Linked DNA regions of Homo sapiens: region 2 is linked to region 1. Evidence: fine-mapped expression QTL. A gene starts in region 1. The other region holds a variant in brackets. All regions are shown on one strand. Distances are from middle to middle. Region 1 holds the start of PPFIBP2 (PPFIB scaffold protein 2). Region 2 overlaps PPFIBP2 (PPFIB scaffold protein 2).

Region 1 (2,913 bases):
CACTGGCCACTTCTCATGGTGAGTCCATGCCTGCCTGCCCACACAGTTGTCACAGCCCAGGCCACACTCTACCCTTCTCTGCCTCAAAAACCCCAGGAGGGATCCTTTGAGGTCCATCACATCACCCTTTCTTAAAATTATCCCAGATTTCCCTGCTCAGATGAAAGACAGGAATTCCCATAACTTTGTTCCTACCGCCTTCATGTCATTGATCTCATTCCACTTACTCTTTTAAAGTCAAAGCGCATCTCCCTTAGCTACCCAGTAAAGAAGGCATCATGGTAAGCAGCTTATCTCTCCAGTAGCAATAAGCTAACAACTGTCACATCACCAAATCTTAAAATAGTATTACTAATAATTGAAATATGTTAAATAAAACATGGATAAATGCAATCAGTGAAAACCTCATCAATCATCCCCATCTCCCACTTCAAATTTATTTAGCTATGAATTTAAGCAAAGTACAAATGGGTTGCCTCTCTTAAGCCAAAGAGAAATAATTTCTAAATTAGATAACACTTACAGCTTTCCATACACCTATAATAATGAAAGACTGAATATGCTGAAGATGAATTATGTCGAAAACCAACTACTTTTCTGTAGTTGACCATTTAACTTCACATAATACACTACAAATTTGAAAACACTTCAGATTTGTATTACAATCAATTAAGGAGGGGTTGAGAAAGGAGAGAGACGAAGAGAAAGACAGGAAGTAGACCAAAATATAGAAAAGGGACACGGATCTATACCAAATATCTGGCTGCTCTAAAAGTAAAAATATAATTAGATTCGTTTTTTAAGAAGATTAAACACTGGCAAGAATGCCTGTCTTAATCCTATCCAAACGCTGGAAGTTCTGTTCTCTTGTTACATAATCTTATTTTCATCCGAGGAAAAACTGCGGGTCTGGAATCTGATGTGATGAGGTGAGGAGGGAGCCCACTTTTAAATAGGACCGTCCCCATCCTGCAGTCTACTGGGACGCGGCGGCTTTAGATTTTAAAAAGTGTGCTGTATTTTTGCACTTACACTACAGAACTGGCTTTAGCCGAGGCCCTGCATCTAGACACACGCTGTGTCCACCAGAGAATTGCCTGGGCTGACAGACCTAAAGCTTCCGCAACCTCCTTAGGCTCCCTAGTCCACGCCGCTGCTCCCCGGGCTGAGCAGGGCTGGGACGCGCCGCACAGAACTCAGGGACCCCACCTCCCTGCGCATCTCCAGGGCCACGCTGGCACCTGCAGGAGTGCGGACTGTCCGCGGATCCCAGGCAGGGTTGGGTGGAGATTCGCAGCCAACCCACAGGAGTTCTGCCCTCCTCCCAGGCTTCTGGCCAGTGGAGTTGGAGAAGGGTCCCCGTCCTCGAGCCTGGGACACGCTCCGGGGCTCACAGAGACACTGACCCACACGTCCCCGTGGTTCGTAGCTCTGGGGGCGCTCCACTCCCTAGGTAATGCTCCCGACGGGGATCCCAACCCCGACCGCGCGGCAAGCCCGGGGTGTGGGGAGAGCCCACTGACCTGGGTACGGGGCCGAGGCTCCTCTCCGGGCGGCTCAGGTGTGCGGGCCGCTCCCGTGTCCCTCCCACCTTCAAACATGAGAGCCCAGAAGCGAGCGACGGGCCACTGGCCCACCGACCAACTGCCGGACCAAGCGCCCGACCAACCAGCGGACCGACCGCAGCGGCCGGGGCCGGCGCCCACGTGACGGGGCGGGGACCTGCGGAAGGCTCTTCCCGGAGCGCCGCGCCCCCACCCCGGGACCTGCCACAGGGACCACCCCCTTGGGCACCCGCTCCCTCTCGGGCACCGAAGAAGCCTGCTGGGACCCGTCCACCAGGGTTCCTGTTCCCGGGGGACCGGCCTGGTCAGCCCCGCCCCTTCGAACCTGCCTCGTCCCCACCCCCTGGGCCGCGCGTCCGGGCCCCAGCCCCGCCTCTCTCGGCGGACCGCGCCCCCTTCCGGGAGCCCCGCCCCGTTCGCCGCGCCTCCTCCTCCGCACAGCTCCGGTTGCGGGGAGGCCCGGGTGGGTACCCGGCGCTCCGGCTCCCAGTCTCCTGGGCTTCTCCAGTCCTTCAGCGCCGTTCTCCGGTCACAGGGAATGAAAGCGAGGAAGAAGGAAACGGTGTCGAGAATTGCGAAGAGAGAAAGCATAGAAAACCCACATTAGAGGCACTCCCAGAGCAGAAACCCTTCGGAGCATCCCGACTTCCTCGGCCCGCGTGCAATCCAGGCAAAATTGAGGTTGTCTCTGAGCCGCCCTCCCTAAGCAGGTCGGAAAGCCCCCGAATCATCCCAGGTCCCGCCGCGCTGCACTCGCAACCTGGGGTGGAGGTCCCTCTAGTGGTTGGCACCAAACAAAAGTTCTGTCTTATGAAGAGCCGAGGTCAGGAAGCATTTCCCTGTGCCCAGCGCCAAGGTCTGGGACCTTAGGTCCAAGAAAAGCGTTGGCAATGTCTGACCACAGGAATGGGTTCTCGAACTGGGGAGGACTGAAGCTGGAGATCTGGTCCAGCCCCTACCTCCAGCGTGTGGCCTGAACCCGTTTTGGTTGTACTGCTATGTTGTGGCCCTGCCCAGGCCTCCAAGGACTGGCTGCTGTTAAGCTGTTTAAAATCCCTGTAGGCCTCAGATGGCAGCGACACCAGGGACTCGGCATAGTCCCCAGCTCTGGCAGGAGTCACCACAGCCCTAGCCTTTAGTTCTCTACAGGCTGGAGTGTCGACAAACTCCACAGGACACAACTTTTTCAAACCAAATTTACCCTCGCGGTCTGAAATGACCAGTAGGCCCAGGAGAATTTTACATGTGAACAGAACCTAACCCACCCTGGCAAATATGAGACGTGTGGTCACTGCGGGAACCTGGCCAGCAGCAGACCAAAGCACAGCCAGCAGGGGAAGGCTGGGGC
Region 2 (2,913 bases), 72 kb before region 1:
CATCCCCGGTGCACGCTGCCTAAAGGCAGAGATATATTCCAGCCCTTCCTGTTGGTTCCCTCTTGGCCTAGTTCAAACTGAGTTTCTGTTATTTGCAACCAAAAGTTCTGGTTAATACATTTGTCTCAAAAGGTGATCAACTGACTAAAATTTACTCCTTTGGAAACAGACTTGTAGGAAAGAATTCCTGCTATTTGGATATAGTTCTGAATTGCAAAGGAATTCTGCCACTATTGCTTGATTTGCTTAAAGTGGCAATTTTTAAGACAGGGCTGTCAGTCCTAAGCCAACTATAGTTCAAACCAGGATTATCATCAGGGGCTAATTGAGATCTACTTTGTGGCACAGGGAGTGTCTGTGTGGGATGTACTAGGATAAAAAGGGCACTCAGTGTCCTTTGTGTGTGGAATAGATGGCTTTCTATCCACCACCTGTTTGCTTCCATTCTTATTTCCCATGTAGAGCAAAAAGGTTAAGACAGGGAATGAATACAAGATGCAACAGGCCCATGGGCATCAACCGGGGTTGGTGGAGGTGGGGAGCAGGATGTGTGATATGAAAAAGTAAGTTCAAACAAAACAAGAAATAAACAGGAGCTAAAGTCTAAAAGATATTATCAGAAAATGAATCAGAAAATGAATAAATGAAGGGTAAATAACAGAAATAGATCTAACAACTGTTTAAGAAGTTATGTCGAAAGAATTACATGTCAGACACAGCTGTACAAATGCCAGGTCTGGGCGCTGGGAGGCTGAGAGCTCTGGGTTCCCTGTTCCCCTCATTTGGCCCAGCTGAACTTCAAGTCAGGGGATCCCTGGGGACTTTCTTGTGGTGCTTCCATATTCATTTACAGAATTCCTATTGCATCCTCCTCCCCAAGGGACCACCTTCTCTGCAGAAAGAGGACAAACCAAGAATAATTAGGAGGCTGGGGCTGCACCTAACCATGTGTAATCTCAAGTAGGTTACCTCATCTCAGGCTTTCCATCCTTTCAATAGAAAAAATCATGCTTCACGGAGCAACAGAAAGGGTCAAGTTAGGTCAGCATACCTGAAAACGTGTGGCACTAAAACTACAGAGTGCTCTTTATAGTAGGGTGCTCTAAAAATTCCTGTGTGATATAAACAGTTTTTGAATAATCATAGGAATATGGAAATGATTTTTAAATTATAATTTAACAAATGAATTTAGCTAACTTATAAATGATTTAGCTTTGTTTAATCTAAAAGACCAACATTCAGTTAGAAGCATGAGTTAGAAGGCATCATTTAATGCCTTCTACAAAAAGTTTTAATTAATTCACTCTTTTTGTGTAAGAGAACAACAGGGGCAATATTTCTGATCAGGATGCCTAAGAAATATCTATGAAGATCTGTACAAACAACCCAAGGGAACAATAACCAAAATACTTTCAGGCTTGAAATGAAAAAACAAAACAAAAAGAAAGCCTCTGTGACAGTGACAACGCAGAACCCACCATTAGCTAATAGCCCTGGGATCATGTCTTTGGGCCACATTGCCAAAGATGAGTTCACTTCTCCACTATCCCTGAACAAGTGCTCACATTTTTGAGTCATACATTCATGGCCACATATTTTTCTTTCGTACAAGTGTTTTATTGTGTACTCTAAGTATTA[T/C]GTGCTACATACATGTTTATAATGAGTACACTGGGAATTTTTATAGCTAGTAATAACCAATCATAAACACTTGGGTTTTTATTTCTGTTCCAATCTAGAGGTTAGTTCAAATTTGGGTTAAACATGAACTTTTCAGCCAAGTTAACCCCCAGCGGCCTCCTCAAAGACATCACCCTCTGACTGCAGTGGCTGTTCAGATCTATGACAATGCTCTCTCCTGGCCTAGCCCTTCCACTGTAGCTTGGCCAAGGGATAGCCATGTTAGTCTCTCCTTGGAGCTCTAGACAGGGTGAGTGCTTGATGCCATGGCTGGGGTCCTGCAGATTTGTGGTGGGCAGCATGACTGCTTTATGGCCTGGCTGGCCATTTGCAAGGAGAACACACTCTTCACATGTGCTCTGGTACACCTCAGGGATGCTGGATGAGGGCAGTTCTGTAGCACTCCCCAACTGGCATGACCCAGGAGACTTCCTGCTGGCACTGTACTTCATTGAACTAGGGGAAGGAGTTGGTTCCAGAGTAGTCAAATGGGGCAAGGGCTAGATCACAACAGGGGTGTCATTGGTATACAAGTAAGGAGTGTGGGAAAACCTAAAACAGTCGGCTCCCCAGTGTGACAGCTCTAGCATCATGTTGGTTTTTGAAGCCAACAGTTGCTTCTCAGAGCTCTTGCCTTGGGATCCTCAAAATGCATCTGCCTTCCTTTTTTTGATATCAATAGTTGTCATCTTGGCCAGGTAAAGAGTTACATTTCCTTCAGTGCTTCTAATAAGCTATAAATTCCAGTGCCTTCAGGATCTTGGCCACAGTACATACACTGTCCCAACTGGTCAGAGCATGTTAAATTATATGATGGCTCTTTGCCTGTAAATACGCTGAGATTTTGAACACAGCACGTTGGGTAAGCCTTGTCCTGGATAAGCCTTAAAATGGTTCTTCCTTATTTAGCCATTTAGATGACATGTATTTTTAGCTGAATAAGAAAACAAAAGAAAATGTGTAGTGTTTCCAGGCTGCCTAGTCAAGAGGATCTTATCAAAATCCAGAAAACTAGTTACAAGTGAACCATAGCTGCCAGGCACAGGGCATCAGGGGAGATATCAAAGTTACTAAGGCTATATCTTAAGCTCAGAAGCACCACTCACATGCAACCCCTTTTAGAAACTTAGAAGACATAAACCTTAAAAGTAAGGGGACCAAAATAAATAAATAAACAAAAATGATTGGATCACAAAAGCTACAGTCAATTCCTGTTACAGGACTCTGGTTACCCAA

The links.
Region 2: its variant is fine-mapped to the expression of PPFIBP2 in tibial nerve (GTEx, PIP 0.98). The same link has a PIP of 0.9 or more in cartilage and damaged cartilage.

The regions. Positions count from the first base shown.
Region 1 is chr11:7,512,732-7,515,644 of GRCh38, reverse strand. PPFIBP2 (PPFIB scaffold protein 2) reads right to left here and starts at 1,646. Exons shown (of 24, transcript NM_003621.5): 1 at 1,524-1,646. It overlaps LOC124902806 (leucine-rich repeat extensin-like protein 5), which reads left to right. Exons shown (of 4, transcript XM_047428005.1): 2 at 1,040-1,527; 3 at 1,605-2,913. The coding sequence ends at 2,435. RefSeq lists a silencer at 1,551-2,080 and an enhancer at 2,751-2,870.
Region 2 is chr11:7,584,677-7,587,589 of GRCh38, reverse strand. All of the region lies in intron 3 of PPFIBP2 (PPFIB scaffold protein 2), which reads right to left. The region is part of intron 2 of LOC105376535 (a long non-coding RNA gene); the gene reads left to right. Among named protein-coding and RNA genes, the nearest start is that of PPFIBP2, 72 kb to the right of the region's middle. The variant T/C (reference allele first, on the strand shown) is at 1,639.